Regions from separate parts of the Homo sapiens genome. Here region 1 is linked to region 2. The links come from fine-mapping of genetic effects on gene expression. Tissue or cell type: whole blood. Region 2 holds a variant in brackets; the other region holds the start of a gene. All regions are shown on one strand. Distances are from middle to middle.

The links. PIP is the estimated chance that this variant, and not a neighbour inherited with it, causes the effect.
Region 1: it holds the start of RBM47, and the variant in region 2 is fine-mapped to the expression of RBM47 in whole blood (TOPMed, PIP above 0.99). The same link has a PIP of 0.9 or more in monocytes.

The regions. Positions count from the first base shown.
Region 1 is chr4:40,627,885-40,632,681 of GRCh38, forward strand. It overlaps RBM47 (RNA binding motif protein 47), which reads right to left and starts at 1,980. Exons shown (of 7, transcript NM_001098634.2): 1 at 1,512-1,980. RefSeq lists enhancers at 837-1,713, 1,714-2,591, 1,774-1,843.
Region 2 is chr4:40,423,917-40,428,713 of GRCh38, forward strand. RBM47 (RNA binding motif protein 47) reads right to left here. Exons shown (of 7, transcript NM_001098634.2): 7 at 1-2,227. The coding sequence ends at 1,988. RBM47-AS1 (RBM47 antisense RNA 1) reads left to right here and starts at 2,217. Exons shown (of 2, transcript NR_199039.1): 1 at 2,217-2,266; 2 at 2,872-3,666. RefSeq lists an enhancer at 1,506-2,705. The variant T/C (reference allele first, on the strand shown) is at 2,077.

The DNA.
Region 1 (4,797 bases), 200 kb after region 2:
ATATAGAGATTGGTAAAAAAAATGATGATGATGAATTCTCAATCCTACAAACTTCTGTAAACGCAAAAACCAAGAGGAAGATAATAAATCTTTAATAATTGATTGATATTCAGAATATCTTGATCTAATTAATTTAAAGCATGGCCTACCTAGCCAGGTAAAGGACGGCACAGCTAGGCTTATTTCTTCATTTGACACATACTGAAAGTTAATAATGAAGCTAGGTGCTTGGGAAATTTCTGAGACCCCATCCTTCCAGCATGCAATAATTAAGTCAAAGAGGCCAACAGTGTGTATATCAGAACAAGGTGAAGGGTAAAGCAGACCAGAAAAAAATATTAAAAACCAAACCATCTCCTCCTTTCTTTTTTTCCTTCTGTTTTCCTTTCAGACTGGGTTGATTTTAGTTCCCTCCAAGACTTCAAGTCATTGATCTAACAAAGATCATTGTTTAAATTAATAGCAACACAAACTCCCACAAAGTGATCTCTTCTTATGCTCTAGGTTGAGTACTTTGGTTTATCTAGAGGTTGTGTGTTACGCCGCTGACCACCTTTCACCTTTTAGAATCGGCACCTGCAATTCTCAAATGCTCTGGATCTAATTGCCAACCTTTTGAGCTCAAAACTTCGGCAACTCCTTCATGTTGGGTTGTCAACCCTTTGCTTTCCCTCCCCTGAGAAATTCGTATGACCTTGCCTTAAAACTTTTAAAGAATACATTTTAAAATCTATATTCCTGCTAAAGAAAACAGTGAGTCATTAAAATACCACCAGATAAAAAAAAAAGGTTTGATTTTTAGTTCAGGTCGGTAATGGCCTGTAAGTACCTTGAAGATGGTATCTTCCTATCACTTATGCCTTGGGACAGTACCCAAGAGTGGCTGAACTTTTACCTAATTAAAAAATGAGTCATTTATTTGAAAAATTCCACTTCCATTTATTTTATCTGATTTCTTAAATATCCGGTCAACTGCTAATTTGTCAGATGTCATAATTCGTCAGTCCTACCCTTTTCTACAGGCTGAATTTTTAATTTGAAACAACTACACCTCTACCGAGTGTTACTTTCAGACGTAAATTACTGCAGGAAGACCCCCCTCTGCCTTGGTTAACACTTAAATGAGATGCCTCCTGTCCAGGACGCTTCCTCAGTCTCACTGTAATAATCTGAGTCTAAAGTCACCTGTGCTTCTGGGCGGTCCAATCATGTATTTTCAAGAGTGAAAAAAAAAAATCAGTTTCTTTTATGGGAAAAGATTCATCACTACAGGAAACACGATGGGACTGACTGTATATGATTATCTGCCTTCCCAGAGGTTGACCCTTTTAAAACCGTTTTATAAACCCTTTATTTCCCACTAAATATACCAAGAGACAGAAGATGAGTGATAGCATGAGGGATAAGAGCTAAAGAGAGAAGAATAAGAAAAAAATATACACTTCAAAAATTGGGACCCAAATGTAAGATTAAGGGACAATAGTTAGAAGGACTACCAAAAACCACCTTACCTTTCCTTGTTAAGTTTTTGGAGCCGCCCACTTCAGAAATTAACACCATTCACAGCCCAGGAGCAACTTAACACAGCTAGGAAGTCACCTACAACATCTTCTCGTCCGCCTTCTTTTTAATGTAAAACCAAAATAAGGAGTGTCCAGCGACTCCCCACCGCGCCGCTTAAAGCAACAGAGCGTTTTAGGCTTAACTCCCAGGCTCTGGGAATTCCAGTGGGTCAGAATTGCTTAACCTTGGAGACTTGCAGAGAGAAAGTCTCCAGGAGGACCGCTCCCCAAACCCTGGTTTCTCTCTATCCCAAGCTGCACATTCCACAGTGGAAAGCGGGAGCGGCGACCCGAAGGCAGCGAAGTTCTCTCGGGCTCAGCTCCCGAGGCCGGGAGCGCGCGGCGGTTCCACCCGCAGAGCGGCGCCGCGTCCCGGCTGCGTGGGGCGCTGCGCACGGGAGCGCTCAGCGTCTAGTCTGCGGGCCCTTCCCGGTTCCCTCCCTCTCTCCTCCCGCCGCCCGCCCCCTGCCGAGGCCATCCGCCTCACAGTAGCAAGGTTGTCTCTCGTCTACTCCCTTCCCTTAAACTCACCAAACCAGATTTTTACTCCCAACACCGGCAACTTCCCGTAAATCTGCCCTGAAATTTTATCCTGCTGGCTGAGCCTCCCCTGGCTAAAGGCCAGTGCCACATTCCTGTTGTTTTTTAGGAGCGCAGATACCTTTGCTGAAGGTTCAAAGAAAATCGGCCTTGATGGCAGAGATTGGGGGACTTGACCAGACGGACTTCTCTCCCCGCCCCAAAAGTCACATGCCTTTCAGACACCCAGAAGTGGCACCTGCTCCACCTGGGGGCATCTGTCCGAGTCAGACGCTCGGCCCCCTTCGGGCTGCTCCGAGAAACCCAGCCAGAACCACGTTGGAGAAATTAGGAACCTGCTGCTGAATTTCAAGCCGATCGGAACCGCCCCGCTCCCCTTCTTCCCCCCATAAACAAGTCGCTGGACGAGGTGGGATCTCTGCGACCCCCGCGTGCCCGGGGAGAGCTCCCGGGGCGAGCTCCCGGGGCGTCCTTACCTGGGGCCGAGCATGGCTTGGCCGCGCGCAGGCAGGAGCGTCACGCGGACGGGGCCCTGACCTTTGCCGGGGCCTTCGCAGCAGGGCCTGGGGCCTGGGCGCTGCTCGTTCAGAAGTGGCTCATTTTAGTGCGCTCTGACCTAGAGTTACGGAGGGTTTCTAGAAAGGGAACAAAAAAACACTGCATTTAGAAACAGCAGCCAAGCCCTCGCTTCACCTTGCCTGCTCTCTGGGGAGTTGGCTCGAACCCCCACCCCATCCCAATTCCCAAGAAACCCAGATGTCCGCAATCCGCGCCCCACCCCCTCCGCCTTACCTGTTTATACAAGAGTTAAGGAGCCTCCCGCATTTCAGTGGAGCGCTAAGCCTGTTTGTAGGCGCGGAATGGGCCAACAGGAATCGAATTCTGTGACTAAACAAACTAGAAGAGGAAGCAGGCACCACCAGGAACCTAAAACAGAGTTGTGATTTCGGGTTGCAGTGTCATTCAGCTGAGGGGAAAGAAAAAAATACCGGGCTACTTTAGTGAAAGAATGTTCCAAAAATGGTTCTTTGCTGGTTGAGTTAACACATGCAAAGAGCTTAGAACGGTGCCTAGCACACAGTGTTAGCTGCCGTTATTGTTGTTGTTATTCTTCTTATTATTATTTACATTATGGCTTTTTTCTGAAGAAGAGTGTGTGGTCAGAGTTAGACATGGGCTGTAGCACCAGCATTGCCACTCACCAGCTGTGAGGCCATGAGCAAGATATTTAATCTCTCCCAGCCTCAGTTTCTGGAAGATTCTAACGATGGGATTTTTACAAACAGTTTATATTCATTGCTGACAGTCTTGAATACAATGGGAAATAAAGTCCCTGTAAAGGGTAGCCAACTGAATTTCATCTCACTTAAAAGTTACAAGATTGACAACAGAAATGGAGATAAATTTGCCTGCATTCCATGAAGCTCACTAACGGGAAGGAAATTCAGGGCCCAGCAATCACCCATCTGCTATGCTTAATTCTCATTTGTATTTTGGCACTTGACCTGGTGTCTTACCCTGGGATAGTTACTTATCCCAGACTGGGCCGGACAAATAATGACCCTTGCCGTTTGAAAAGCAGTATGAAAGAGAGGGAAATGATTTTGAAACTCCTCATAAATATTAAAAAGTGATTATTGAAGGCTAAAATGTTATCAGTGCCTCCACCCTTTATCCTCCATTTAACTTCACATTTAAAGAAAGAAATCATAATCCCTTTCCATTAGTGAGGCCCTTTCTACTTTATGGAGCACTTTCACCCTTCTTACTTTATGTGATCCTTACAAAATGATCCTATGAGCTATTTTGTCCCCATTTTGCAGATGAAGACACTGAGATCACACAGGTTAAGTGTAAGTCCAAGGTGGTGAGGCCAGGACTGGTTCTCAGTTCTAGTTAATTTTTTTTTAAGTTGAAAAATCAAACTGGATTTATTAAAATATATATAAATAACCCTCATTTTTCTTTATTTCATCAGTATTGGAAAGTTAAGTGAAAATTAATTAAAAAGTAGTAGTCCTAAGAGAGAGAAACAAAGGCTGAAGGGGTATCAAGAAAACCATAAATTTAAAAAGCAGCATTTGCCACCTTTGGGAAAAATGATTCCTTAAAACCAGCAAAGCATTCTGGAACATTTTAAATCCTTCTGATCTTTTATCTTCTCATGAGGCAAAATTTAACCCAGACAAATTCAACATTTCCTGTGTTTTAGGTTCATTCTTTGTCGATACCAGCCAGCATGTACTGTGAACAGCAGGCAGTGGGAACTCTCTTAGCTAAGTTCCCTCACCAGACCTAAGGGTTGATGCTGCCAGGCACAAACAACGGCTCCACCCCCTTAAGACAACTAAAAAACCCAGCTCCATATTAGCCTGAAATTTTCTTTTCTTTTCCAGAAGTATCTGGATTATGGCCTCAAAAAAGGCTCGCTGTCACAGACTGTCTGAGCTGAAGGATTCTAGAGGGGACATTCTCGCTGGGCACGGTGGCTCACGCCTGTAATCCCCACACTTTGGGAGGTCGAGGCAGGCAGATAACCTGAGGTCAGGAGTTCCAGATGAGCCTGGCCAACGTGGCGAAACCCCGTCTCTACTAAAAATACAAAAATTGGCTGGGCATGGTGGCAGGCACCTGTAATTCTAGCCACTCGGGAGGCTGAGGCGGGAGAATGGCTTGAACCCGGGAGGTGAAGTTT
Region 2 (4,797 bases):
CAGATTTGAGTTTGAATGCAGCTTGTGGGGTACATCATCAGGAACATTGCACAATTATTTTATGTCATTTAAAAGAATGATGGAAAGGAATGTTAGCGGTGCTTAAAGGCCTCAGTAGGCACTCAATAATTTTATAGAATAGTTAAATAAATATTGCTTACACATAAAAACTCATCTCATTTCAAGATGAGGGGGAAAAAGGCATTTGGGAATCTCTTAATTTAAAACAAAACAAAAGTACTTGCTAAGGGCATGATCCTCTTATGAATCCACAAGAATTCAGCCATCAACAAAAATCCCGTGAGTGGAAAATTGTATGGATCTCTAACATGACATAAAAACGCAACTGCGTTTTACTTGCTACCTTATTGCACACCTCACTTCCTTGATTGAGCCTTTAAAAAACAATTCCAAGTTGATATTTTTTTTTAAAAAGTAGATGACAATCTTAACATTTTACTGTATTTTACATTCACTCTGCTAAACAAAAGCCTTTAAACAGGCACAAAACACTGCAACAATACATTAACTTCCTAATAAAACAAACCTTTTTAATAACATTGAAATAAAATGGTTTCATTTTGCATTAAACTACATACCATGAACTTCTCCAACATAAAAGGACTAAAAACAAGCATTAGAAGATATTTACAAACTATCTTTAAACTTCTACAGGTCTCTCCTCCTCCTCCTGGATGTGCACACCCCAATCCAGTTCACCCATCAAGTGCACAGCAAAGGAAGAGAGGCCCATTTAATAAACATAATGTTTCCAACACCCTTGAGGACCATGGACAGTTTTGCAAGAAACATGGTAAGGCAACTAGAAGCATAACTTTCTGCTGAAAAGAGTCTCTGGGGGTCTTGTCTACGATAACATACATTCTTTGTCCCTACAAACTCATACTTCAAAAATGAATAAAAGCATTAGAAATGGCATTAAAGTTTTACATTGGGCAATTAAATAGCTATGCAAAGGTGTCTTATGCAACTCGATTAAAACCTTGTGCTTACTCTGCTACTGAAAATAGCACACGTAGAAGACAATACTTCCCCAACCAAACAAAAAAAAAAACAAAAAACAACGAAACAACAAACCCCAACAAAAACCCAGGAAGAAGTATAAAAGCCACCAGCTCCTCTATCAGAGCTACTTATCAGTCCTAGGCTTGCCAAACATTGCGGTGGGATTGGGAATCTGGGGAGGAGGGGACAGGGTGAGAGATGTGGGAGTGGGGGCATGTTTAAGGCTAAGGCACATGGAGAATGAGCCCCGGCTAACGGTGGCAAAGGAGAGCTTTCCAGTGTTTGGACTCAGAAGTGCGGCAAGTCTTTTCAATGTTGGCTTAAGGAGAGATCCAGTGTTTAATTTCTTTTAAAAAATAGTACCGCCATGATGATACATGGTAACACCATCAACCCTTAATGCCAGCAGAAATACAGAGGTTTTACTCATTTTAAAATTGCACTTTCCAGTATAACCTTTAAAATAATGCTTTATGTAGTATTTTTAAGCACTACTGTTTGTATCTTTAAATATTGTATATATTTTTCAAAATAGTTCCCTAGCTCCTCAAGTGTGCTTTTTTAATATATAGTTGATATATTATTGAAGGTACTACAAAATAGAAATCTCTGGAGTGCAGAAGTTAAGAAAATAACCTTCATACTGAAAATATATCCTTAAAAAAACAACAACAAAAACCTCTATACAAATGTAGTACAGCATACAAATTTTTAAAAGATGGAATGAAGGCACGAACCATTGCAAGTCTTTTGGAAATGTATGAACGTAGGCATGCTAAGTTGAAAATAGTCTTAAAAAACTAGTGAAAACTTCATGTATATAAAATAATTCAGAAATAAATCTGCTAACATTCTTCACTTTCAGGTTGCATGTGTGAATCCAACATGTTCCTTCTTCATAAATAGTCAAGCGTTCCTTCAGTGGTGTTTGTGTGGTCTGTCTTCGTGCTGGTCACCAGCCTCAGTATGTCTGGTAGACGTCGGGGATGGGGACCTGAATGGCAGCAGCAGGGAAGGCCTGAGGTATGTAGCCTGCGTATCCTCCATACA[T/C]GGCGGCCGCGGCTGCCGCGTTCTTCTGTAGTGTGGCGATCGTGGCTGTAGCTGGAGCAGCAAATGGCACGTAACTGGCCCCGTAGATCCCGGCAGTAGGAATTCTCTGAACGTTTGGAGCCACCGTGTATACTGGAGTTATTGGGCGGCCCTGAGGAGAAGAGACAAAAAGGAGCCTTCCTGAACACGTGTATGTACCTATCATCCATTCATTCAACAAGCCTCTCCCAGAAGACGGGAATACAAAGACACAAAAGCAAGGGAGAGAAAGGCAGAGGGGCGGGCAAACAGCAATTATTGTAAGCAAGTGGGAGAAGAGCCACTGAAGAGGTAAGGTGGAGCTGCATCCTCAAACTCAGTGATGCCACCTTGTGAAAGTGAGAGGCCTGGAAGGCTGAGGGAAAGGTGAAATACAGTTGCCCCTCAGTATCCTCACAGGTGATTGGCTCTAGGACCTCCGTGGATACCAAAATCCTCAGATGCTCGAGTCCCTGAGAGAAAATGGCGTATTTGCATTTAACCTATGCACATCCTCCTGTATACTGTAAAAAAATTTTTTTTCATAGAGACAAGGTCTCACTATGTTGCCCAGGGCTGGTCTTGAACTCCTGGCCTCAAGCAATCCTCCTGTCTCAGCCTCCCAAAGTCTTGGGACCCATACACTTTAAAAATAATCTCTAGATCACTTATAATACCTAATATGATGCAAATGTTATGTAAATAGTTGTTATATCGTATTTTGACATTTGTATTTTTTTATTGTTGTATTGTTATTTTTTATTGTCTTTATTCAAGCCACGGTTGGTTGAATCCAGATGCAGAAACTGCGGATAAGGAGGACCTTCTCTGTACTGTATTCCGGAATCTTCTACTTACCATTCCACTCAATCAGTCTATGCCCCAGAGTGAGCTAGAGAAGGCAGCGGAGAATCTACCATCCACACAATTGATTTCACAGTAATTAAAAATCAGTGTTTTTCCTTAAACATGGCCTCTAGATACATGCCAGCTGCCTCAACTCATACTTAACTGATGGAATATGATCTGTCTCAGAGACAGAGAGAGGAACAGACTGTGTCAACTTAGAGAAACCAAATATACTGATCTCCAAAGGGACAGCTTCTTAAGCTGTGACCTTAAAAAATTGTGACCATACACAATTTTCAGCCAATGTGATGGTTTCCATCACCTCCCACCTAAGAGATGACACCATTAATGTATACAAATTGTTGTAGAAGCTTAGAGAAAGAACCAACTAATGGGGAAGTTGGAGAAAATGTCTCAGCAGCGGGGATATTCGAGCTGAGTTTTGAAGGATAAAGAGCAGTTTCCAAATGAGGAAGAAGTGGGCAAGGACAAGCTAAGTAAAGTTGCCTGAACTGTTGACGGCCACCACTGGCTCTAGAAAAGCCCCTGCTACTTCCTTCTGTCTACTTGAAAGTGCAACATAAGATGTTTTCAGAACAAACAGGAGTATGAATGGGAAGACTGTGGTTCAGTATTTCCCAAAGTGTTTGCCATGGAACTAGTTCTGTGAGATGCTTCATTGAAAAGAGATTCTGAATAAAATAAAACATTCATTTAACAAAATATTTGGTGCACCTCATGAGCCATAGAATGCCTGGTAGTAAATGCTGGTATGGTCTCCCTATATGTTAATACATCTTCAAAATAAACAATTCAGCATATGTGAAATGGTGAATTAAAATAATTATTTCTTCCTGGATTTTTATAAAGGAATTAGCTCTAATTTCTGTTACAAAATTTGCAAATCAGAGTTCCAAAATTGTGCTCAAAGGAACTTAGGAACTTCTAGCCTAAGATTACTTTTTAAAACTATAATCAAATAGTAATTATAATTTATAATAATTTTAATTTATAATTATAATGATAATTATAACAATTAATAACTCAGAGGCTGGGTGAGGTGGCTCATGCCTGTAATCCTAGCACTTTGGGAGGTTGAGGTAGGAGGATGGCTTGAGGCCAGGAGTTCGAGACCAGCCTGGGCAACATGGCGAAACCTTGTCTCTGCAAAAGATACAAAACTTAGCCAGCCATGGCGGTGCGTACTCCTGTAGTTCCAGCTACTCAAGAGGCTGAGGTGCAAGGATCACCTGAGCCTGGGAATTCAAAGCTGCAGTGAGCTGGGATCATACCACTGCACTCCAGCCTGGGCAATGGAAGTGAGACCTTGTCTCAAACAAAACAAAACAAAACAAAACAAAACAAAACAAAACAAACCCCCAAACTCAGGCACTATTCTAAGTGCCTTATTTGTATGACAGTATTGAATCATCACAGCCACCAGTAGAGTTGGTACTATGATTATATGGAGTTGTGTGGAAGTGTTAAATGACCTGCACAAAGTGACACAGCTTTTAAGCAATGCAATGTGTGACTCTGGAGCCTGCACTTTTAGCCTTACGTTAACTTGCTTCTTACAACCCTAAACAATGAGTGTCTCATCAGTGACATTTTACAACCAGGGAGAGGAGCTCCAGAACTGGAAAGACTGTGGTTCACAGCAAGACACAAGTCACCTTTTCCACATGTGTGGACGTAGGTTTAATAACCAGTGCAAAAAGGGAGAGGAAATGGCAGGGAAGGCAACATGTGAGAGAGACCTTTCCATGTGCTACAGGACGGCCCAACACCTGGGTTCAGGCTGCCCACTCCAACACCAAGTTTTGCACATAGACATGCACTGGCTTACGGCCT